7 linked regions of the Homo sapiens genome follow. The protein of the gene in region 1 purifies or fractionates together with the protein of each later gene. This does not show direct contact. Each region holds a gene or a part of one and is shown in the gene's direction. Other genes may lie near its edges. The genes, in order: PPP4R2, FAM133B, PUS7, CT45A1, PAAF1, RAP1A and MIDEAS.

Region 1 (3,500 bases):
CGGGTAGAGGAGGGTTTGTGTGTTGGTCATTGAAGTTTGGTGAAAGCAGCTTATTATTTCTTGGAAATTCATAGTGTATATCAACTTATTAAAGGTTCTGTGAAGTTATAATTGCTATTTTAACTTTATAGAGTGTTTTATAAACTTACACATGGAATTCATTTTCTCAATTCTGGAGTTCAAAGGTACATAACTTTGGAAACTTACTGGTGCCAAGCATGTAAATGAGGTATTGAGTAGAAAGATGCAGGTCAGATTTAGAGATAAACATTAGTGTTTGTGTGTGGAGGGGGTTGAGGGAGTGTTAGAATAAGGGAAGGGTATTCTGAATAAAGGAAATGGTGTGGGCTGGGTGTGGTGGCTCATGCCTGTAATTCCAGCACTTTGGGAGGCTGAGGTGGGTGGATCACGGTCAGGAGTTCGAGACCAGGCTGGCCAACATGGTGAAACCCTGTCTCTGCAAAAAATACAAAAACTAGCCGGGCGTGGTGGTGCACGCCTGTAATCCTAGCTACCCAGGAGGCTGAGGCAGGAGAATTGCTAGAACCTGGGAGACGGAGGTTGCAGAGAGCTGAGATGGCACCATTGCACTCCAGCCTGGGCAACAAAGTGAGACTCTGTCTCAGAAAAAAAAAAAAAAAAGGAAATGGTGTGAAGAACAAAGATTCAAGGTGTTTAAGGGAATGAAAAGTAAGAAATTGACTTGTCTTGAGTGAAAAATGAAGGAAGCCCTGTGAGAACCAAGATTGGACTAATGAGTTCTAATTTTCAGTTGATGGTTGGTCCGGAAACACTCCCCTGTTCATTTAAGGATCTGGTTCAAATCCACTTTATTTTACCCTGGGAACAGGAATCAAAAACCATTACATAGTGATTTACAGTAGTTTTTGTGGCCATACTGGATTAATATATTTTGTTGATCCTCTGTACACTCAATTGAATAATATCCCCAAAGGCCAGGAAACTGAGATGGCTCATCAGTACTTACTTTTCAGCTCCAGGAGTTGTAATAATTACATTTTGGAGATTTTCAGATAAAGTAGCAATATGTTACAGTAGTCATACCAGGTGCCCTGCCTTTAAATCAGGGTTGCAGTGTTTCATAGTTGTGTGACCTTGGGCCAGTTAGTTTTCTCCTCTGTAAAATGTGGTTAATAATAGGGCTGGGAGGGGGATTAAATGCAAAACACTTACTGTGACTCATACTAAACTTTCAGTGAACACTGAATATTAGTAAAGTTATTTTTACTGGGAAGATCATAAATATATTACAAAAAAGGTTTGAGTCTCTTTCTGTGGGATATATGATGCAACACAACAAGCCGTGGATTGGGTGTTGCTTTGTAAGGAAAATCAATTACATATGTCTTAAGTACTTCAATCTCTCAACATCTTTGTTGATTCCATCTGAGCTTAGTTACTCTACTACGTATAGTGTATGATGTTACGGGTCTAGAATAACTAGATTAGGGTAAAAAATAAGTATAGGAAAAAAAAAATTAGTGGCTGAGTAGGATATTCTCTTTTGGTCCTTTGTTATTGTTTTAGTTTTTGCTGTTTCACCAGTTTTCATTTTTAACCATTTTCCTTTACTAGCAAAATTAGAATCAATGGGAATTTAACCCACCAGAGTGATTTTAGAAACAAAAATGATGAAACTTTATGTTGTAGTACTTTTCTTCATACTAAATCACTGATTTTTGTTATTGCAGAATGTGATGGTTGTTAGCTGTGTTTATCCTTCTTCAGAGTAAGTATATTTTTTCTATTTCTAGTATATTATTTACTATATTTAATCATTTTATTGCTTCTAATATATTATTCTTAAAATAGACTGAATTTATTTAATATGTAATTAAGTGTGATAACATACTTGTGAACCTACCATTCAGTCCCCAAAGTAGAATATTACTAATAACATTATCTATATGTTTTTTCCATTAAAGAGATTTGGATTAAAGAGATTGGTGATTTACTGTAATTTTAATATTGTTGGATTTACATACTGTGGTGGCACTCATTGCCCTGAGATGCCATTCTAGATGCCTTTCCAGGGTGTCTCTAGGGCATAATTCCCATGTTTGGAATAACTACTTGATGGCTTTTCTCTTTATGATGGAAAATATTTCCAGTTGTCAAGATTTAGATATAGCAAAGTAAGAATTAAATTTGGATACAATTTCTCAACCTTGGAACTATGGACATTTTGTACCAGATAATTCTGTTGTGAGTGGGTGTCCTGGGGATTATAAGAGGTTTAGCACTGTCCTTGACCTCTACCCACTTATGCCAGTAGTGTTCCCCTCTCCAAATATCTTTAGACATTGCCAAATGTCTCTTGGAGATGTGAAAGGCAGGGAGGGGAGGTTGTCCCCTGCTGAGAACCATTGGTTTAAGGTTAATCTGGCTCTGCTTTCATAGACTACTCTGTTACCCAGGCTGGAGTGCGGTGATGAGTGATCATAGCTCACTGCAGCCTTAAACTCTAGTGATCCTCCCGCCTTGGCCTTCCAAAGTGCTGAGATTACAGATGTGAACCACCACACCCAGCCCAGTCAATTTGTTTTTAGAATGTTCCCAAGAATATAGTTATGTTGCTAAATAAGATACTAAAATAATCCCATACTATATTTCTTGACAGAAAAACTATTAAAATGTATACATGATAAAAATTTCTTTTATGAAGCAAAATATGTTTTGTTTTGCTCATGAACGTGAGGTATTTTGGAAAAATGGTAAAGAAGTGCAGAGTCAAGTCATAGCGACTAATAATGGGTTATTTTCTTAAATTGTATGCTTATGTTAATTCTCACAGTCTTTTTGTTTGGGTCTGTGACAGATCTTACAAAAGATCTTTTAGACCTATGATTCTTAACAAAATTAAAGAATTAAGTCGGAACCAATTTTCCACAATGTCTCATCTAAGAAAGGACTCACAGCCCAGCAGCCCAGGAGATGACGCAATGGACAGGAGTGGGCTCCCTGACCTTCAAGGAAGATTTGAGCTATCTGGGAAAAACAGACAGTATCCACTGGATGCATTGGAACCCCAACCCAGCATTGGGGATATTAAGGACATTAAAAAAGCAGCCAAGTCTATGCTAGACCCAGCACATAAATCTCATTTCCACCCTGTGACCCCAAGTTTAGTATTCTTGTGTTTCATATTTGATGGGTTACACCAGGCATTACTGAGTGTTGGTGTGAGCAAGAGGTCTAATACTGTGGTTGGGAATGAGAACGAGGAAAGGGGTACTCCTTATGCTAGCAGATTCAAAGATATGCCTAACTTTATTGCCCTTGAGAAGTCATCAGTTCTCCGCCACTGCTGTGACCTTTTGATAGGCATTGCGGCTGGATCAAGTGATAAGATTTGCACCAGCAGTCTCCAAGTTCAGAGACGATTCAAGGCAATGATGGCATCTATTGGAAGACTTTCACATGGTGAGAGTGCTGATCTGCTAATCAGCTGCAATGCAGAATCAGCCATAGGTTGGATC
Region 2 (3,500 bases), on another chromosome or scaffold:
TTTTAGTAGAGACAGGGTTTCACCATGTTGGCCAGGCTGATCTCGAACTCCTGACTTCAGGTGATCCACCCGCCCCAGCCTCCCAAAGTGCTAGGATTACAGGCGTGAGCCACCGCGCCTGGCTGACCCTGTCTTTTAAAAAATAATAATAGTAATAAATAAAATTTTTATTGACTTAAATTTGGAAAAACTAAATAGAAGAGGTAGAGACTGAATTAAAGACCAGACTTTATATCAGTAGCAATGCGAATTTTAATAAAACAACATCGCTTTGCTAAACACTGTCATTAACAAAGAAACCTTTTGCTTTGTTTTGCCTCAATATGTTTTTGAAAAAAATCTCTAAAATATTTTTCTGCTGTAGTAAGTGTAGTAGACAGCATGATTTAAATTTTTGCAGATGTTTTAATTGAGCTAAAATATGTATAACAAAATTTACCATTTTAACTGTTTCTAACTATATAGTTTAGTGACATTAAGTACATTCATAGTGTTGTGCAACCATCATCACTATCCATTTTCATCATCCCAAACAAGAACCTCTGTATCAATAAACAGTAAACTCCCAAATTCCTCTTCTCCCCAGACCCTGGTTAACCTCCATTCTACTTTCTTTTCTAGGTATCTCATATAAATGGAATCATATATTTGTTCTTTTGTGTTTTTCTTGTTTTATTTCATTTAGCATATTTTCAAGGCTCATCCAGGTTGCATATAGTATGTATCAGAATTGCATTCTTTTTTAAGGCTGAATAATATTCCATTGTATGTATATACCACAGTTTTGTTTATCCATTTATCCATAGATGGACATTTGCGTTGTTTCCACATTTCAGCTTTTGTGAATTCTGCAGTTGTGAACATTTGTGTACAAGTATCTGTTTAGTCCCTTCTTTGAATTCTTTTGGGTGTATACCTAGATATAGGATCATGTGGTAGTTCTATGTTTAACTTTTTGAGGGACCACTAAACTGTTTTCCACAGTGGCCACACCGTTTTACATTCCCACCAACAATGTGAAAGGGTTCCAGTTTCTCTGCATCCTTGCTAACCCTTGCAATTTTCTGTTTAATAATAGCCATCCTAATGGGTATAGAATGGCATCTCTTTGTTGTTTCAATTTACATTTCCCTAATGACTAGTGATATTGAACATTTTTTTATGTGTTTATTGGCCATTTACTATATACCTTCTTTAGAGAAATACCTATTCTTCTGCCCATTTTTTAATTACTTGGAGTTTTTTTGTTGTTGTTAAGTTGTAGGAGCTCATTTTACATTCTGGATATTAATCTCTTACTAGATTTATGATTTACAAATATTTTCTCTCATTCTGTGAATTGTCTTTTCACTCTTAACAGTGTCCTTTGATGCACAAACATTTTACATTTTGATGTTCTGTTTATTTTTTTCTTGCCTGCCTACAATTTTTGATGTTAACTATTTATGAATAAAATTGTCATCACTATGACATAGTATTTCGTGGGAGACAAGATGTAGTTGAATAAACAATGAATTTAGAGTTAGATCTTATTTAACTTCTTTGGAAATGAATTTATTTTATTTTATGTTATGTTATTTTATGTTATTTATGTTATGTTATGTTATGTTATGTTATGTTATGTTATGTTATTTATTTTATTTTGAGAGGGAGTCGCTCTGTCGCCCAGGCTGGAGTGCAGTGGCACGATCTCAGCTCACTGCAACCTCTACCTCCCGGGTTCAAGTGATTCTCCTGTCTCAACCTCCCGAGTAGCTAGGATTACAGGCGTGTGCCACCATACCTGACTAATTTTTGTATTTTTAGTAGAGGCAGGGTTTCACCACGTCGGCCAGGCTGGTCTTGAATTCCTGACTTCAGGTGTTCCACCTGCCTCAACCTCCCAAAGTGCTGGGGTTACAGGCGTGAGCCACTGCACCAAGCCTGGAATTGAGTTTCTTAATTTTCTAGTGAACATACTGTTATCACCCTCACAGGGTTACTGGGCTTTAGGAGAAAGAGCTGTAAAGCCATCAGTAGGTCAGAGGTATCTATTATTTCATCAAATCTCTTGTAAAACACACACACACACACACACACACACACACACACACACAATTTTCTCCCAAACTTTTAAGACTTAAAAGAGGATTAAATTAATTTTTTTAGAATAAAGAGTTGGTTAGTCAGATTGCATATACTTAGCTGGATATATTATGCATTTATAGTAAAGATTACTTGATGAGTAAGTGAGGTTTTGCATGTTTAATGATTGCTTTAATGGATTAATTGTTGTTCTTTCCCCAAGGCCTATATGAACCCAATAGCAATGGCGAGATCAAGGGGTCCAATCCAGTCTTCAGGGCCAACAATACAGGATTATCTGAATCGACCAAGGCCTACCTGGTATTTGTGAAACACTTTACCTATTTATAAGCTTTTATCAACTTTTTAAAGTTTATTCTTAAGACTTTAATTGATTTTATTGATTACCAAGCAATTGCCAGATAAGTAATTTTTTTAAGTAACATTTGATATGTGCTTTCTTTTGAATGTGTGAAACACGTGTACAATTATAAAGCAAACATTTAAGAACCCACTACCCAGTATAGCCAAAGCACTGCCAGGTAACTTTTTCATACCAGTCTCTTCTCTATTCCATAAAAGACCCTAACCTTGCAGTGGTCAAAGCTATTTAGTGAGTTTAAGTAGTCTTGTCCTTTACTGATGTGTAACCAGATAGCAGGAAGAATAATATTCAGCTTTGTTTCTAGTTTTATCTGCCAGCTTTTCAATGAATTAGAAAAACTGACTGATTTTTGTAAATAAAGCATCAGAGTATGGGCCATGTTATTCTTTAGTATGTCTTCCTCGTTATTAATACCTTACTCCTGAGACAACATACAACAGGCTTCAGAGCTGTTAACTTCAGAATCCCAAGTGCCCCTGAAAACTAGGCAACTGGTTGAAAAGTATGCTTATGTATAATAGGGAATCCTTCCTTTGAGTTAAATAAGAAGTAAGGATTGTTTACCAGTGTGTGTGAATGCCATTGTTAACCATTGCAGCATACCAGAAAATGCATTATCCCAAAACAAAGTATGTTTTAATGGGGAGAGGGAATGAACTTTCGAGGAGAAATGTCCAAGTAAATATATTACATGTGTATCAGAAATCATCAAGACAGCCCTCAGGTTGAGTAACTCGTAGGGACTCACTGGAGTTTCAGCAGATAGTCGTACTCATGGTAAGATTTATTACTGTGAAGGGCTACCAAGCACAATCAGCAAAAGGAAAAGGCACAGGGAGCAAAGTTTGGGTAAGTCCCGGAACAGGCTTTGAAGGGTCCTCCCCTAGTGGGATCACGTGAGAGGCACTTAATGCCCTTAGTAAGGAGTTGTGATAATACATGTGAGATTTTGGCAACCAATTGAAGCTCATTAGAGACTCAGTGCCCAGGGTTTTTATTGAGGCTGGTCAGCCTCTGCCTGTCATGTACCAAAATTCCAGATTCCAGGGCT
Region 3 (3,500 bases), on another chromosome or scaffold:
ACAGTAATAATCAATTCAGCCAACAATCATGCTTGGGTACCTAAATAATTGGGTAAAGACTTTGGGGGAACAGGATTTTTACACAATTTCAAAAGTATTTCCCCACTGATGACTAATTAAAAGCAAAGACAAAGAGACTCTTAGAGTGTAAAAATCTAGTAAATACTATCCTAATTAAATGATTAAAGTTATTATCATTGTTGGACAAAATCACTGCCTTTTGATGTGATGCATTGAAAAGGGCCATATCACCTCAGTAATATTTCTACCAAAGTGTTTACCTGAGTCTCAGCATGAGGAAACAATCAGATAAATCCACATTGAAAGACGTGTAAAAGCGCTGGCCTGGATTCTTCTAAGGGCCAGATATCATGAAAAACAAGGCTAGACAGATCACTTAGTGGAAACCAAACAGACATCACAGCTGCAATGTGTGATCCTCAATTGGATCCTGGCAGCCTAAAAAACAAAAAGATGGCCAGGTGCACTGGCTCATGGCTGTAATCCCAACACTTTGGGAAGCTGAGGTGGGTGGATCACTTGAGGCCAGGAGATCGAGACCAGCCTGGCCAACATAGTGAAACTCTGTCTCTACTGAAAATACAAAAAAACATAGCCAGGTGTGGTGGCATGTACCTGTATTCTCAGCTACTCGGGAGGCTCAGGCAGAAGAATCTCTTGAACTTATCTCACGCCTGTAATCGCAGCACTGTGCGAGGCCAATGTGGGTGGATCACCTGAGGTCAGGAGTTCAAGACCAGCCTGGCCAACATGGTGAAACCCGTCTCTACTAAAAATATAAAAATTAGCTGGGCACGGTGGCTCATACCTGTAATCTCAGCACTTTGGGAGGCCGAGGCGGGCGGATCACCTGAGGTCAGGAGTTCAAGACCAGCCTGGCCAACATGGTGAAACCCCATCTGTACTAAAACTAAAAAAAAATTAGCCGGGCATGGTGGTGTGCGCCTGTAAGCCCAGCTACTTGGGAGGCTGAGGCAGGAGATTCACTTGAGCCAGGGAGGCAGAGTGAGCTGAGATCATGCCACTGCACTCCAGTCTGGGCAACAGAGAGAGACTGTCTCAAAAAAAAAAAAGGAAAGAAAGAAACAACATTGGGTGTTAGTGGTGACACTAGAGATAAAAAGGGGAGAAAGGCTTTTCAGTACTCTGTTTCTCTATATACATTTCCTATTGAAGAAGGCAAGGAATTTCTAATGAAAATTTCTATATATTGATAGCAGCATGATACAGATTTGGGTAGAATTCCAGCTATATATAACATGTCTTTTAAAAAAAGAAAGGGAGGAAATAAAAAGTTAGATGTCAGTGGAAATTTTTTTCAGGCAATGAAAATATGAATTTCTTTTCCTTTTCTCTTTTTTATATTTTCCAAGTTTTCTGTAATGAGTTTACAAAATTTTTCTGATTGACAAAAATAATGACCTTTTTTTAAATGCTTGATACCATTCTTTCTATGGGATTTGTCTCTGTCCCCATCCCTTTTCTCACCCCTCTCCCCACAAAAAGTAGAAAATTCCACAGATATTATTGTTCTGTTACTCATCAGCATGTAAATAACAAGAGGCTTTAAGTATATAAAATATGGCCAGGAGTATGCAATTTGAACAGGAGCACGTACCATTACACTGAAGGAAGAATGCAGAGAGAAGAGAAGGACACGCCCACCTCACCTGCTGCAGTGCCTTTTCCTTTCAGGGGGTCATAGGTGTGCTGTATCTTGTTTTCTGTACTGTTCCAAGCAGACAATCAGTATCTCATGATCCTCTTTCTACTCTTTTTTGTTTTGTTGCTTTTTTTTTTTTTTTTAAAGAATAACTGCACAAAGACTTGCCCACCTGAATAAGTGCTTGATGAACTTTAAGCTAGGGAATTTCAGCTATCAAAAAAACCCACTGAAATTGGGAGAGCTTCAAGGAAACCACTTCACTGTTGTTCTCAGGTAAAGAACTGCAGGTGGGAATGTAGACCAGAGGGTCTGGCCAGGGCATCTTGAGTATGTTACTCACGGTTGGTCATAAGGTCCTGGTGAGCTGGTACTAACAGAACAGGAGTGGCAGCAAGGGAGGGCAGAGCAGGGCCTGGCAGGGCTGGGAGAGCAGATACCTCTGTGAGAGCAAATACCTCTGTAGGATTTGTGTGGACACCTTGCCCCTTGAAAACCTAGTGCAGCCTTTGGAAAGACACCATCTCCTTCAAATATTGTAGTAAAAGACACCGAGCCGGCTGGGCGCAGTGGCTCACGCCTGTAATCCCAGCACTTTGGGAGGCCTTGGCAGGTGGATCACAAGGTCAGGAGATCGAGACCATCCTGGCTAATACGGTGAAACCCTGTCTCTACTAAAAATACAAAAAATTAGCCGGGCGTGGTGGCAGACACCTGTAGTCCCAGCTACTCAGGAGGCTGAGGCAGGAGAATGGCGTGAACCGAGGAGGCAGAACTTGCAGTGAGCCGAGATCGCTCCACTGCACTCCAGCCTAGGGGACAGAGTGAGACTCCAACTCAAAAAAAAAAAAAAGACACTGAGCCTGTGATTCCACTTAAAGCGCCTAGAATAGGCAAATCCATGGACATAGAAAGTAAAATAGTGGTTACTGGGGAAAGGGTAGGGTAGGGGTAATGGAAAGTTACTGTTTAGGGGTACAGAGTTTCATTTTGGAAACGGGAAAAAATTTGGGAAGTAGATAGTGGTGAGGATTGTCCAACATTGTGCATATAATTAACCCATTTATGCTAGTGTTCCATTATTGGAACACTAAGCATGTAGGAATTATTTATATCCTACTGCTCAAGGTCATCGCCAAGGTCTGATTGCAAAAATTCAAAAAATTGCAACCTCTGCCATAAATGGGTTAATACCGCCAAATTGCACACTTAAAAATGGCTAAAATAGTAAATTTGACATTATAAATATCTTACCACAACTTAAAGAAAGAAAGAGCCCTTGGGAGGTAGAGAGAAAGCTGCAGGAGAGTGAACGAAAGACTTGGAAGCCAGGCCGTAGTCATTTATGAGCTGCATCCCTGAGTATTTGACTGTAACTTTTTTTCCTCTGGATAATTTGTGTCCCTGTAGAAATATAACAGGAACTGATGACCAAGTACAGCAAGCTATGAACTCTCTCAAGGAGATTGGATTTATTAACTACTATGGAATGCAAAGATTTGGAACCACAGCTGTCCCTACGTATCAGGTTGGAAGGTTGGTATTTAATTTCTTTTATCAAAAATAGCTTTCTCATAAACAAAGCAGGGTTTGTTGGTGGTGGTGTTTTTAATTATTTCTACGTTCTCCCATGTCTGGGGCAAATGAACCACAGTTTCATGATTTTTGTTTTAAGTTAATGAGTGCACAGGGTAAAAAATCGGAGTTCAAAAGGATATGACCTGAAAAGTGAGCTTTCCTACCACTCTTGGTTACCCATCCAGGGGTTCTATTTTTATTTTTTTATTTTATTTTATATATTTATTTTTTCTGAGAC
Region 4 (3,500 bases), on another chromosome or scaffold:
CCAACCAGCAGCAGCTCCTGGGGCTCCCTCTGCTGCTGTTGCCCACAGGCCTGTGGACTGCTTCCTTACCACTAGCCCAACACTGTATGTTTCATTTGCTCATTGTGCACGTACTGTCTGACCGCCCCATGAGGATGTGAGCTCCAGAAGGGCAGGGAACGTTGCTCTCTGGGCTGTTTACTGCTGATCCCCAGCTACCGGCACGCTGCCTGCCACAGACGATGAATAAATGAGAGGTGTCAGACCTGGAGTGAAAAGAAAGTCACTTTTGTGAGACAGAAAGGAAGGATGAGGAAAATCATACACTAAAAGGGATTTTTTGTTGATGGAGTACATGTAGAACTTTCAGCAGTAATGGCCACCTCTATTTTCTCAGAATATGTTTGATGTAGAGAGGAGGCTGGTTGAGGTGTGTCCAAGTTGTCTGGCTTCCAGCTTAGTAAAACATGGCAGTTTGTAAGTGAATTTGAGAAATCATGATATCAAGTGAGACTTGCTGCTTTCAACTTGTAAAGCATAACAAGCTGAAACTGTCCCATGAGTACCAGGGATCTGTGAATGTTGCTTTAGAGTTGTACTGCCTTACTTGGTTTCCATGTCTATTCATAGGGCCAGAAAATAAGAGGTGGTTTTATTGTATTATGTGTCCTGGCCTCCGTTTGTCAGGCCTGGGATTTCTCCCTGGTGTATCCTCCCATTTATGAAATAAATAATTCCCTAGAAACTGAGGAGCACATAGATGTACCCAGAGGGGTGATGAAACACACATATCTCACAGCTCAGCTTCTCAGTTTGATTTCCAGAGCTGTCATTCATGAGGTCTATGTGGAGGGGAAAGAAAGTGGTCAAACACCAACTGATGGCTTTTACTCAAAATCTGTTTCACCAGAGCTTATGACAGGACATGCTATTCCACCCAGCCAATTGGATTCTCAGATTGATGACTTCACTGGTTTCAGCAAAGATAGGATGATGCAGAAACCTGGTAGCAATGCACCTGTGGGAGGAAACGTTACCAGCAGTTTCTCTGGAGATGACCTAGAATGCAGAGAAACAGCCTCCTCTCCCAAAAGCCAACGAGAAATTAATGCTGATATAAAACGTAAATTAGTGAAGGAACTCCGATGCGTTGGACAAAGTAAGTAATATAAGAATGTCTGTTTTATAAAACTATAGGAAGTCTCTCTTTCTATGATTCAGAAGATATTCATGTTGCCTGTTGAGTTTCATTCTTTGCCAGAGTTGAGATTGCACATAATTTATGGTGGTTCCTCTTTTCTTTGACTAAAGCATGTACATTTTTTCTTTTTCTTTTCTTACTTGGTTATGGTTAAAGGAGTTACATTCGTATGTATGTGCAGGTGTCTTTTTTATTATTTAGGTTTTGTATGTGCAGGTATCTTGATTTAAGCATTTAAAACATTTCAGCCTCTGAAGCATGATTGCTGAGGTGTAGATTCACTTCTATTCTTCTTTATATTTGATAATACTGAAGTTTTTTTTTTTTCAACATCTTCAGAATATGAAAAAATCTTCGAAATGCTTGAAGGAGTGCAAGGACCTACTGCAGTCAGGAAGCGATTTTTTGAATCCATCATCAAGGAAGCAGCAAGGTGGGTAGAAATAGGAACTGTCCAATTTCTTTAAGCACTTGGGCTCAATAGAGCACTGGGGGTGAGCGTTGGGGAACAGCCCCTGCCTTGCGTTTCTCAAACCCTGGTCCTCACTCACAGTTACGGCTGTCTCCACAGTTACTTAGGCTAATGTTATCTGAGTGTAACTCATTCTTCGAAGACTATGGAGACTTCCATTTTCACCATAGTCTGAGGTGCGCATTGTCCCTCAATTGACACTCTTTGTATTTGCTAGACTACCTCTTTTTAAAAAATTTGTGTAGGCACATAGCAGATGCATATATTTCTGGGCTATATGAGATATTGTGATACAGACAACAATGTGTAATAATCACATCAAGGTAAGTGGGGTTTCTATCACCTCAAGCTTTTATCCTTTGCGTTACAGAGAATACAATTATACTCTTCATTATTTTTAAATGTGCAATTAAATTATTACCGACTATAGTCACCCTGTTTGGCTATGAAATACGACATCTTATTTATTCCATACTTCTACGTATTAATCATCCCCACTTCCCACACCCTCCACCCCCACTAACCTTTGTAGCCTCTGGTAACTGTCATTCTACTCTCTATCTCCATTAGTTCAGTTGTTTTACACTTTTACTCCCAAAAATAAGTGAGAACATGTGAAGTTTGTCTTTCTGTGCCTGGCTTATTTCACTTAACATAAGGACCTTCGGTTCTATCCGTGTTGTTGCAAATGACTGAATCTCATTCTTTTTTTTATGGCTAAACAGTACTCTGTGGTGTATATGTACCATATTTTCTTTACCCATTCATGTGTTAGTGGACACTTAGGTTGCTTCCAAATCTTGGCTACTGTGGATGGTGCTGCAACAAACATGGGAGTGCAGATATCTGTTCGGTACACTGACTTCCTTTCTCTTGGGTATATACCCAGCAGTGGGATTGCTGGATCATATGATAGCTCCATTTTTAGTTGTTTGAGGAACCTCCAAACTGTTCTTCATAGTTAGTTGTTGTAGTAATTTATATTCTCACCAACAGTGTATGAAGGTTCCCTTTTCTCCACACCCTTGCCAGCATTTGTTATGCCGGCTAGACTGCCTCTTACCATGCAGATACATTTCTATTTCCATGCTGACTGTTACTTCATCTTTCTATCTGTCACAGCGCTTCCTACAGCATAGGTTCTTTGGCTATCTTTTGGTTAATGACATGTCTCTTTCTTTTCAGATGTATGAGACGAGACTTTGTTAAGCACCTTAAGAAGAAACTGAAACGTATGATTTGAGAATACTTGTCCCTGGAGGATTATCACACCCCAAATGCATAATCTCGTTAATGATTGAGGAGAGAAAAGGATCAGATTGCTGTTTTCTACAATGGAGCAGGATATTGCTGAAGTCTCCTGGCATATGTTACCGAATCAAATAGCCTTCCAGAGGCTAAGAAATTTCTGTTAGTAAAAGATGTTCTTTTTCCCAAAGCATTTTATTTGAAAGGATAACTTGTGTTTTGGTTATTTTGTATTCCCACCTGTGCTGGTAGATATTATTAACCCATTAGGTAAATACTATTACAGTCGTGGTTTCTGCAGCAGCTCACAGTGTTGTAGCTGGTATTTATCACTACGTTCTTTCGCTACCCATTTCACATTCCCTTTGCCCTGAGATAGCATGTCAGTTGGTCATGATGCTTGGCCTGGCAGGATGACTCAAACCTTCATTACGGAAGAGTCTGAACCATTAGATGTCCTGCCTGGATGGGGTTGCTGTGATCTTCCATTAACTCTAATCGAAAAACACGGGAGGACTAAGAAGCTCTCTAGACATATCACACATACTCTTCCTTAGCCCCTGGTGTAGTGGGAACCCGATCTCAATGTTGAAATCTGTA
Region 5 (3,500 bases), on another chromosome or scaffold:
GAGGCCAAGGCGGAGGATTGCTTGAGACCAGCCTGGGAGACATAGGGAGACCTCGTGTCTACAGCAAATAAAACTAGCTGGGCATGGTGTTGGGTGTCTGTAGTCCCAGCTACTCAAGAGGCAGAGGTGGGAGGATTGCTCAAGCCCAGCAAGTCAAGGCTGCAGTGAGCTGTGATTATGCTACTGGACCTCCTACCCTGGACAAGGGTAGCCGTGATCATGCTGCGTGGTCTCCTACCCTGGACCAGAAAGTGAGACCCTGGCTCTAAAAAAAGAAACACACACACAAATACACAAATATATATATATACACACACACATATACATATGTATACTTAACATAAAAATTCAAGGAAAATACTGTATTTTATTTTACCTATTTTATTGTGCTTAATTATGTTCAAAAATCCTATTCTAACTGCTTGAGCTAGGATTGTGCCACTGTACTTCAGCCTGAGAGACAGAGCAAAACCCTGTCTCAGTTAAAAAAAAAAAAAAAAGCCAGGTGCGGTGGCTCTACTAAAAAAAAATACAAAAAATTAGCCGGATGTGGTGGTGGGCCCCTGTAGTCCCAGCTACTCGGGAGCCTGAGGCAGGAGAATGGAGTGAACCCGGGAGGCGGGGCTTGCAGTGAGACCAGATAGTGCCACCGCATTCCAGCTTGGATGACTGAGCAAGACTCTGTCTCGAAAAAAAAAAAAAAAAAAAAAAAAAAAAAAGCCAGGCACAGCAGCTCACGCCTGTGATCCTAGCACTTTAGGAGGCTGTGGCGGGCGGATCACCTGAGGTCAAGAGTTTGAGACCAGCCTGGCTAACATGGTGAAGCCCTGTTTCTACTAAAAATACAAAAAATTACCTGGGCGTGGTGGTGCATGCCTGTAATCCCAGCTACTCGGAAGGCTGAGGCAGGAGAATCGCTTAAACCCAGCAGGTGGAGGTTGCAGTGAGTGGAGATCGTGCCATTGCACTCCAGCCTGGGCAACAAGAGCGAAACTCCATCTCTAAATAAATAAATAAATAAAATAAAAATACACAAAAGACCTACATTTTATTTTAACTAAAATATATAAACATACATTAAAATTCACCTTCTCTTTATTAGTCCACTTATTATTACAAGGACCTTGGCTATCTTGTAATAAACTGTAACCAAAAGGCACAGTTTCTTTAAAGCAAGGCAAATCTTTACTTAGGCTAAAAAAGCAATCTAAGAGCAAAACATCAACTGGGGTTTATATTTTTTTAGATCTTTTCCCTAATATTTTGCATTTTTCTTGCCGATACATACTATTAAAGCAGTATTTTTTAAACAGAATCTAGCTCTGTCACCTAGGCTGGAATGCAGTGGCATGATCTCAGCTCACTGCAACCTCCAGTCCTAGGTTCAAGGGATTCTTGTGCCTCAGCCTCCTGAATAGCTGGGACTACAGCTGGGACTACTACCATGCCCAGCTAATTTTTGTATTTTTAGTAGAGACAGGGTTTCACCATGTTGGCCAGGCTGGTCTTGAACTCCTGAGCTCAAGTGATCCGCCCGCCTTGGCCTCCCAAAGTGCTGGGGTTACAGGTGTGAGCCACTGCCCCCGGCCTAAAACAGTTTTAAAAAAACATTATCAAGTCTTTACAAAGCAACAAACTTAATGTTGTTGTTGTTGTTGTTGTTTTAAATTACCAAGCTACCTTCAACAACCAAGGAGTTTTTTTGTTTGTTTGTTTGTTTGTTTTTGAGATGGAGTCTCACTCTGTTGCCCAGGCTGGAGTGCAGTGGTGCAATCTTGGCTCACTGCAACCTCTGCCTCCTGGGTTCAAGCAATTCTCCAGCCTCAGCCTCCCAAGTAGCTAGGACTACAGGCGCGTGCTACCATGCACGGCTAATTTTTTGTATTTTTTTTTGAGATGGAGCTTTGCTCTTGTTGTCCAGGCTGAAGTGCAATGGTGCCATCTTGGCTCACTGCAACCTCCGCCTCCCAGATTCAAGCAATTCTCCTGCCTCAGCCTCCCGAGTAGCTGGGATTACAAGCATGTGCCACCATGCCTGGCTAATTTTGTATTTTTTTTTTTTAATAGAGACAGAGTTTCTCCATGTTGGTCAGGCTGGTCTCGAACTCCCAACCTCAGGTGACCCGCCTGCCTCAGCCTCCCAAAGTGCTGGGATTACAGGCGTGAGCCACTGTGCCCCGCAATTTTTTGTATTTTTAGTAGAGATGGGGTTTCACTGTGTTAGTCAGGATGGTCTCCATCTCCTGACCTCGTGATCCGCTCCCTGGCCTCCCAAAGTGCTGGGATTACAGGCGTGAGGCACCGTGCCTGCACTTTTTTTTTTTTTTTTTTGAAGGTAACTTGTAGATTCAGTTTTCTTTATGAATTGGAGTTAATGATGTCAACTCTTAAGGAGGAGGGTGGTTTTTGTTTCTGTGTGTGTTTATTTTTATTTTTATTATTTATTTATTTATTTATTTATTTTTGAGATGGAGTTTCGCTCTTGTCGCCCAGGCTGGAGTGCAGTGGTGCGATCTCCGCTCACTGCAACCTCCACCTCCTGGATTCAAGCGATTCTCCTGCCTCAGCCTCCCAAGTAGCTGGGATTTCAGACATGCGCCACCACGCCTGGCTAATTTTTTTGAGACGGAGTCTCGCTCTGTTGCCCAGGCTGGAGTGCAGTGGCATGTTCTCGGCTCACTGCAAGCTCCGCCTTCCAGGTTCATGCCATTCTTCTGCCTCAGCCTCCGAAGTAGCTGGGATTACAGGTGTCCGCCACCACGCCCAGCTAATTTTTTTGTATTTTTAGTAGAGACGGGGTTTCACCGTGTTAAGCAGGATGGTCTCGAACTCCTGACCTTGAGATCCGCCCACCTCGGCCTCCCAAAGTGCTGGGATTACAGGCGTGAGCCACTGTGCCTGGCCTGTTCTTATTTTTTTGAGACAGGGTCTTGCCCTGTTGCCCAGGCTGGAGTACAGTTGCATGATTATGGCTTACTGCAGCCTTGATCTCCTGGGTTCAAGAGATCCTCCCACTTCAGCCTCCTCAGTAGCTGGGACCACAGTCATGCACTACCATACCTGGCTAATTTTTTAAATTTTTTGTAGAGACAAGGTCTCACTATGTTGCCCAGGCTGGTCTTGAACTCCTGTGTTTATTTTTTAATACATGGGGTCTCGCTGTGTTTCCCAGGTGCTGAATTTGAACTCCTGGTCTCCAGTGATCCTCCCTCAGCCTCCCAAGTAGCTGGGACTCTAGGTGTGATCCACCATCTTGTTTCTTGTTTTTGTTTTTAAATAACAGCTTTATTGAGATAAAAATGTGTGCTATCTATGTGCTAGTTACTTTACATATATTATTTCTAGTATCACCCCCAAAACAGTCTATACCCATTAACAGTCACTTTCCACCCCCCAATCCTAGCAACCACTAGTTTACTTTCTAGCTCTGTGGATTTGCCTACTTTGGACATTTCATATAAATGGAATCATAAAATACATGGCCTTTTGTGTGACTTCTT
Region 6 (3,500 bases), on another chromosome or scaffold:
TAAGAATTGTTTGCTTTACTGCCTGTTTTACTTCAGTCCAAGACTTATTTTTTGTAAATAGCTTTTCTGCATATGTATACATACACACACACACACACACACACACACACACATATGCATGTATATACACACGTTGTAGGGAAGTTGTTTCCTGGTTCAGCTAGCAATTTCAATTCTCTGTTTAACGTCAGAAGTTGTTTTGTAGAATGGGATGTTAATATTTTTTTCTACACTGATTAAAATCATCCTTTGCCACTAAAGTCAAGTATCTGCTAGGACAGAAATGTGCAAATAGCATGCGTAAATGTGCATTTTTAGTGACTGTTGTTAGCTTGACAGTTTTATTTTCAAGATCCTCTTCTCTCCCGACCTAATTAATTATGATGTGTTTATAAGGCAACAATAATATATTTAGTTAGTTTGCAAAATGAGAACAATTTTTCTGGTTTTTCCATTTTTGCATGTTTTGAGTTTGGATTAATTGGACTTGTATTATTCTCAGTAGACATATATAATAAAATAGTCCATTTAACTGTGATTCTTTCTCTTGGAACATTGGCTGACTTTTAGATAGTGAGCCTTGTGCAGTTTCATAAATACAGGTACTACTGAGTTTTGGATGACATTCTTTACACAACCTAAAAGTAAAGGTGAGCATAATAGAAGCTGGAAACAAGCTGCTGGGCATAATAGAAGCTGGTAACAAGTCTGACGTTTTCTTTGCACTAGGAAATGTATTTCTTATTCCAAGTAATATGCCCTTGTTAGGTTCAGGATCTTTTTCAGTGGTTATAACTGCTTAAACATTTTTTTTTCTGTTTAAAGTAATTCATGTTATACTGTGGCAAATTTTGAAAAAAATGTTAAGTGTAAAGAATAAATTGAAAACATCCATGATCCTATCATCCAGAAAAAATTACTACTGATACTTTAATATACATTTTTCCAGTTTATTCCTTGCATGTACGGATTTTTTATTTATTTTTTTTACGAAACTTAGAATTATAACTTTATATATACTGTTTTGATCATACTTTTTTTTCCTGAATGGGATGTTGGTCTCCTAGTTTGAGACTTTAAAGTTGATTCTTTATAATATTACTGTTTTAAATAACACTGGGACAGACATTTTTTGTACATGTATCTTTGATTGCATCTCTGTTTTTTTTTTCTTCCTGTAGGATAGATTCCCAGAAGTGGGATAACTGGATCAGAGGGTGATTACCCTGTGTATAAGAGTATGTGTCTCACTGCACCTTCAATGGCATTGAGTAGGTCAGTTTTTACAATCTTTGCCAATGTGATAGATATCTGTTACATTCTTGGGTGGTAATAGCAGAAATCCTCATATTATTAATAATCTGTAAAACCATCATAGTGTATGAAAGAAATTTGCAATTGTCCTGAAATGAGTTTCTTTAAAAATATTTTAGGTAAAAGTAATCTGTGACCAAAAAAAAAATTACTGATTAAAGTTGGAATTTCAGCATTTTTTTTTTTGGAGAGCTAGAATTTTAATGTTCTTTTATTAAAATGACAAACATGAGAAAGCTTGTTTTATAGTATGTAATAAATATAAATATTATGTAAAACTAAATTATTTCAGATAGATGAGGGGGGTAGTCACATGGTTCTGACTTTGAAAAAACAAAAAAAAAATCTGTGAATGTTTAGAGCAGTAGCTCTGGAGTTGGGCAGCCTGGGTTTGTGTCCTTGCTTTGCCACTTACTAAGTACATGATTGGAGGCAACCTGCTAAATATGTGTATGATTTGATTTTTCTGAACCTTGGCTTCCTTATTTTTATAAAAGGAGAATAATATCTACCCCATAGGATTGTTGAGAGGATTAGAATAATGTGTAAGACCACTTGGCACATAGGTATTTAATAAAAACTAGCTATTTTCGTTAAATTTGTTTTTTCTGCCAGTCTCCTCAAGGGCAAGAAATATCTCATTTTTGTGTTTCTGTTTACATGAATAAATACTGAAATGCAAATGGGCTGTGGTGAGCAGTGGCAGCAGGAGGGGAATGGTGGACATTCTTTGTGGTAGGAATGGCATGTGCCAAGATAGAAAGAAAGTTCAGGAGAAGTTGGAGGACAGGTGATTAATTTGACAGAAGCCTAGGCTTTTGTATAGTTAGAAAATATGGAGATAAGGGAGAATTATGGAGATTGGGGCTAGACTTTTAAGCCATTGAATGCTACGTTGATAAGTGTAGACTTTTTCAGGAGTACAAGCTTTGGTATGTGGAAAATGACTTGATAAAAGCATTCATCGAAAAGCAGATGAATTCGCTTGTAGAGTAAAGAATGAATTGAGGAAGGAAGAGGTTGAAGACAGGGAATCTGGATTAATAGTAACACAGGTAAGGTAAGATCTGAGGGTTTAAAGGAAAACAAAAGGGAGGGTTTTGGAGGAAGTGCTTAGGCTTCATGTTTGTGAAGATCTGTACAACCAATTTGGAGATCAAATTCAAAAGAAACAGCCTAGGCTTACATGCAGTTAGGCAGCCTTTGAGAGAAGATGGGACTCAGTACACTTTGGTTGTTACTATTGTTTTTTTAAAAATTGAAGGATAAAACATTCCAAGATTCCTATCATTTCGTCAGTAAAAAGCATATATTTATGCTTTTAAAAATATATATGTACAATCTCCTGCAGTAATTTTATTTAGTTAGCATTTTGAGTTCTTGGTTAACAGGATATCCTCGCTTTTAGACTTTGTATTTCTGGAGCTATTACCTTAAAACTCTTCACTGTAAGGTGAAATTCTTCTGCATGTGGTTTTTGTAGCATTTGTGATTGCTGCAGGACTTTAAAAAAACCAGTCGTGTGAGCAGAGGTGATGAGAAGTGAAATACAGACTTCTTGTTTGTTAAGCAGCTTCTAAGTAAAATATAGGAGCAAAAAAATGGGAAATTGTGTGTATGATGTTTAGAAAAACATTACTTTTAGTGTTCCTGTTTTCTCTCTCAGCCCTGAATTTTCCTAATTAAAAAAAGAGAGTTTGCAGATGCCATTTTTAGTCATTCTAGAACCTGACTAGAGCTCTACTCATACTTTCCACTTGACTGAATAATATAAAGCAAGTTAGCCAGAGATTGATATTAATAGTATTTCTTTTTGACTGATAAGTAAACTCACATGAACTGTGAATTGTCTGCTCGGTATCTTCCAATGGAGAAAAGAAGCAACCACCAATTTAAAAAAATACAGGCTTGTGATACTTATAAGGTGTTTGCATTTTTTAAAACAGTGAGTTATCATACCTTTCTTAATGTTTCTTTTAGTTTCCAAATACTGCCTAAATTCAGAAATAAAGTACTTATTATTTTTATTCAAATCTCTTCCCTTTAAAACTATCCTTGAAAATATTTTTAAATTAATAAGCAAATGTAACTCACAGTGCTCGTAGTGTTGGGGATTGTGTGCGTGTGACTTTTTTTTACAAATACTGTGTTTTTCCTGTGTGAATCTGCAAAAGCCCAGATCTGGT
Region 7 (3,500 bases), on another chromosome or scaffold:
TTTTGGATTCACAAATAGTAGTTTCCTTTGGTTCAACCTAATAGCCACTTCCTAGGCTCAGGTGCATTAGCACACATAAAGCTGGAACATCATGCCCAGGCCATCCTGTTTGCTCATAGTCCTTTGTGGCAGATCTAGTCTCTGGGGCTCTCGAACAGTCTTTTTGGCCAAAAGCAGACATTCTGGAAATATTGGGCTGGCTTGGGGTGATGTACTGCTGAAAAATGTTGCCCACTCCATAAAGAGATCCATTTCCTCTGCAAAATGGGATAATCCAATCCCTTAGGGTGGTAGAGAGGATTAAGTGGAAGTAGCTAGCTTATAGATGCCTTTGGCCAATTAACCTTTGACTGTGACCTCACCCATGGTGTAGCTCTCTGGTGCCCCCTGGTGTCTGTGGATGCAAAATGTTTGCCCTAGGCTGGCCAGCCTTCTGTACTGCTTCCTGGGGAGGCTTCTCCCTGGCTAGGCTGTGTAGGAAGAGGAAGTCATTGTAGAGATCAGACTGGCAGCCAGCGAGAGGTCAGTCTGTCCACGAGTATCTACCGAACACTCGGGCGTAAGGCCTTGTACTGGGTCCTGTGAGGGCTCCAAGAATGTACAGGACACCATGGTCTGTTCTATAGAGAATGCAAGGTCATTAGGGAGTTGACATGAAAGCCTTGGAGTTGAAAAAACAGAGGTTCCCGGTAGTGTGGGATCTGCAGCCAGTGAGCAAAGCCCCAGCAGCTAGCCTGGGATGGTGAGGACTGTATTCAAGAGGGGTGGGGCCAGAGCTGAGCCGCAGCGATGGAGGAGGGCGGGGGGCAGGGAGGACACACCAGGCGGAGGAAATGACTGGTGCAAAGGCCTGTAGATGGGACCGTGCAGGGAGAGTGAGGGGTTGGGAGGTAAGCAGTCAGCTAGGATGCAGGTCCAGGCACATGGGTGGTGGGAGGTACAAATGGAAGCGGAACCGCCTTGAACCCTGAGGGGAGGGTTGCAGGTTTTATCTCACATTGCAGGAGGGAGTCAGTAAAGAGCAAAGATTTTTTTTTTTTTTTTTTTTTAAGCAAAGGAGTGTTTTGATCATGTGGGGCCTTAAGAAGACCAACTTGGGCCTGGGCACGGTGACTCACACCTGTAATTCCAGCTACTTGGGAGGCTGAGGGAGGAGAATTGCTTGAACTTGGAGGTTCAACTCCTTGAGCCGAGATCGCACCACTGCACTCCAGCCTGGGCGGAGACAGAGTGAGACTTTGTCTCAAAAAGCAACAACAACAACAACAAAAACAAAAAAAAAACTAGCTTGGGAGAAACTGAGGCAGAAAATCCAAAGAGGAAGTGAGACGATAACTATAAAACAGCGATCCCCTTCACCACCTCCCTAGTGTGCTCAAAGTTTCAGTCTCTTTACTAGAAAACCACAGCTTTATGTTGGAGTTAGTGTTGGAGCTTCTGGGGGCAAGGATATGGCTTTGGTAGTAGAAGCAGTAATAATAATCTTTATCGAGTGCCAGGCTCTGTGCATTATTTTATCCAGTTCTCACATTAACCGTAGGAGACAGGTAGTGATAGCCCCTTTTGGTGAGTGTGAAAACTGAGGCACCCAAATATTTAGTGAAGGGCCTGCGTTTTCGTAGGTGACAGGCTGCAGAGCCAGGACTCAGGTGCCTGTGTTCCCTGCGTGAGCTCTGTGTGTCACCACTGTGACTCTTGCACATACAGGGCAGCCACTAGGATTGGGGGTGCTTTGCTGAAAGGGGGGTGCTATTTATCAACCTGCTCTTTGTCCCATAGACAGTGCTGAAGTAACCCCGCCTGTCCTCTCTGTGATGGGGGAGGCCACCCCAGTGAGCATCGAGCCGTAAGTGCAGCCCTGCCCCTGGCCGAGGGGTGTGGGTGGCCACACTGGTGCAGTGTGTGCAGGTGGGCCCTGGGAGCAACAGGAGGGTTCCGTGGGGCCTGCAGAGGGCTGAGAGGGCCTCCTTGAGCTTCTGTATGTGGCCCTGGGCTTTGCTGTCCCCGCCCTGCCTCTGTGTGGAAGTTGCAGGGAAGGGCAAGGACCGGCTCAGCTTGAACTTATCTCTAGGAGAGTTGAAAGGGGGGTCCAGAGGCTCTTTCCCATCTGTAAACCTGCAGCTGCTTCTCCCCTCTCCAGCCTCTGGACCTTGCCTTTCTGGTGGTGCCAGGTCAGGCTGTCCTCCCAAGCCCCTAGAAGCCAGACTCCCTACACCTAGCTGAGGCCTTGCTCTGCCGGCTCCCCCTCATCTTCTTCCCACCCTGAGGGATCATCAAGTTCTCCGTCCCCGCAAGGTGAGGCCTCACTTCCTGCCCTTTTCACTCCTCTAGACGGATCAACGTGGGCTCCCGGTTCCAGGCAGAAATCCCCTTGATGAGGGACCGTGCCCTGGCAGCTGCAGATCCCCACAAGGCTGACTTGGTGTGGCAGCCATGGGAGGACCTAGAGAGCAGCCGGGAGAAGCAGAGGCAAGGTGAGGAGGGGCCTGGGGGCAGCAAGTGAGGGCAGGCACATGGGTGGGCCAGGCCTCACCCTGCCCAGCCCCGCCCTGAACGTGGTTTCCTCCCCTCCCTCCTCATGCTCCTGTGGATCCAGTGGAAGACCTGCTGACAGCCGCCTGCTCCAGCATTTTCCCTGGTGCTGGCACCAACCAGGAGCTGGCCCTGCACTGTCTGCACGAATCCAGAGGAGACATCCTGGTGAGAAGGCAACCCCAGCAGAGGGAGGGCCCCTCAGTGGGGGCTGGCTTGGATCCATGTCTGCTGCTCAGGACCTATGGCTGCTGGCATGCACATTTGAGGCCAGTAGGAGGGTCTGACTAAGGAAGGGGCTGTAGGGGCTTGACCCAAGGGAGCCCTAGTTTCAGACCCCGGGTTTTGCTGTGCAGTGTCCTCCTGTCCATTCCCATCCCTGATTCTGGGTCAGTGGACTCAGACTGGATGGTTGCTGAGAGCCTTCTCCAGCAGTGCTGCCTCCCTTGGGGCCATGGACTCTCTTAAGAGGACCTGAGGTCTGTTTTCTGGGCAGCCCCACCCCCTGTGATCTCACCACCCCAGTGGACCCCTTATCTCTCAGCAGTTAAGGGGGCAAGAGTAAGTGTCCACCCTACTCGGGATTTTATCAGGGCCTAGAATGCTCCGTCCACCACCGACACCCCTGTCAGTGCCCTGACCCTTCCCTCACTTCCCCTCCAGGAAACGCTGAATAAGCTGCTGCTGAAGAAGCCCCTGCGGCCCCACAACCATCCGCTGGCAACTTATCACTACACAGGTGGGCCTGGCTGCGGTGGGCATGGTGCCTGGAGCCTCAAGAGGTCTCCAGCATCCATGGGGCCCTGCTCAGTGCTGAGTCACAGCCCTGGGTGGGGGCGGGAGGAGGAGGGTAGATAAGCCAAGAGTCAGAGTGAGGGAACTGCCACCAAAGCTGGGGTAGCTCTCCAGGGGTTTCCTGTGCCCTGGAGGGGAGGGGAGAAGGGAGTGGGCAGGTGGGAGACCATCCA

What was found.
Region 2: the proteins of PPP4R2 (region 1) and FAM133B purify together in Homo sapiens (affinity purification with mass spectrometry; one large-scale study listed by BioGRID and IntAct). This does not show direct contact.
Region 3: the proteins of PPP4R2 (region 1) and PUS7 purify together in Homo sapiens (affinity purification with mass spectrometry; one large-scale study listed by BioGRID and IntAct). This does not show direct contact.
Region 4: the proteins of PPP4R2 (region 1) and CT45A1 purify together in Homo sapiens (affinity purification with mass spectrometry, with the first as the bait; one large-scale study listed by BioGRID). This does not show direct contact.
Region 5: the proteins of PPP4R2 (region 1) and PAAF1 fractionate together in Homo sapiens (co-fractionation; one large-scale study listed by BioGRID). This does not show direct contact.
Region 6: the proteins of PPP4R2 (region 1) and RAP1A purify together in Homo sapiens (affinity purification with mass spectrometry; one large-scale study listed by BioGRID and IntAct). This does not show direct contact.
Region 7: the proteins of PPP4R2 (region 1) and MIDEAS purify together in Homo sapiens (affinity purification with mass spectrometry; one large-scale study listed by BioGRID and IntAct). This does not show direct contact.

Annotation. Positions count from the first base shown.
Region 1 is NC_000003.12:73,059,311-73,062,810, forward strand, and holds part of PPP4R2 (serine/threonine-protein phosphatase 4 regulatory subunit 2), read left to right. Parts: intron 1-1,712; coding exon 1,713-1,750; intron 1,751-2,348; exon of another isoform or gene 2,349-2,771; coding exon of another isoform or gene 2,772-3,500. Other genes in the region: EBLN2 (endogenous Bornavirus-like nucleoprotein 2), read left to right, coding at 2,772-3,500. UniProt on the Homo sapiens protein: Regulatory subunit of serine/threonine-protein phosphatase 4 (PP4). May regulate the activity of PPP4C at centrosomal microtubule organizing centers.
Region 2 is NC_000007.14:92,580,391-92,583,890, reverse strand, and holds part of FAM133B (protein FAM133B), read left to right. Parts: intron 1-2,287; coding exon 2,288-2,385; intron 2,386-3,500.
Region 3 is NC_000007.14:105,480,772-105,484,271, reverse strand, and holds part of PUS7 (pseudouridylate synthase 7 homolog), read left to right. Parts: intron 1-1,831; coding exon 1,832-1,960; intron 1,961-3,094; coding exon 3,095-3,220; intron 3,221-3,500. UniProt on the Homo sapiens protein: Pseudouridylate synthase that catalyzes pseudouridylation of RNAs.
Region 4 is NC_000023.11:135,720,139-135,723,638, forward strand, and holds the end of CT45A1 (cancer/testis antigen family 45 member A1), read left to right. Parts: intron 1-889; coding exon 890-1,138; intron 1,139-1,519; coding exon 1,520-1,613; intron 1,614-2,837; coding exon 2,838-2,895; 3' UTR 2,896-3,090; downstream 3,091-3,500.
Region 5 is NC_000011.10:73,879,999-73,883,498, forward strand, and holds part of PAAF1 (proteasomal ATPase-associated factor 1), read left to right. Parts: intron 1-3,500. UniProt on the Homo sapiens protein: Inhibits proteasome 26S assembly and proteolytic activity by impairing the association of the 19S regulatory complex with the 20S core.
Region 6 is NC_000001.11:111,626,289-111,629,788, forward strand, and holds part of RAP1A (ras-related protein Rap-1A precursor), read left to right. Parts: intron 1-1,181; exon of another isoform or gene 1,182-1,275; intron 1,276-3,500. UniProt on the Homo sapiens protein: Counteracts the mitogenic function of Ras, at least partly because it can interact with Ras GAPs and RAF in a competitive manner. Together with ITGB1BP1, regulates KRIT1 localization to microtubules and membranes.
Region 7 is NC_000014.9:73,725,804-73,729,303, reverse strand, and holds part of MIDEAS (mitotic deacetylase-associated SANT domain protein), read left to right. Parts: intron 1-1,779; coding exon 1,780-1,846; intron 1,847-2,331; coding exon 2,332-2,474; intron 2,475-2,596; coding exon 2,597-2,700; intron 2,701-3,195; coding exon 3,196-3,271; intron 3,272-3,500.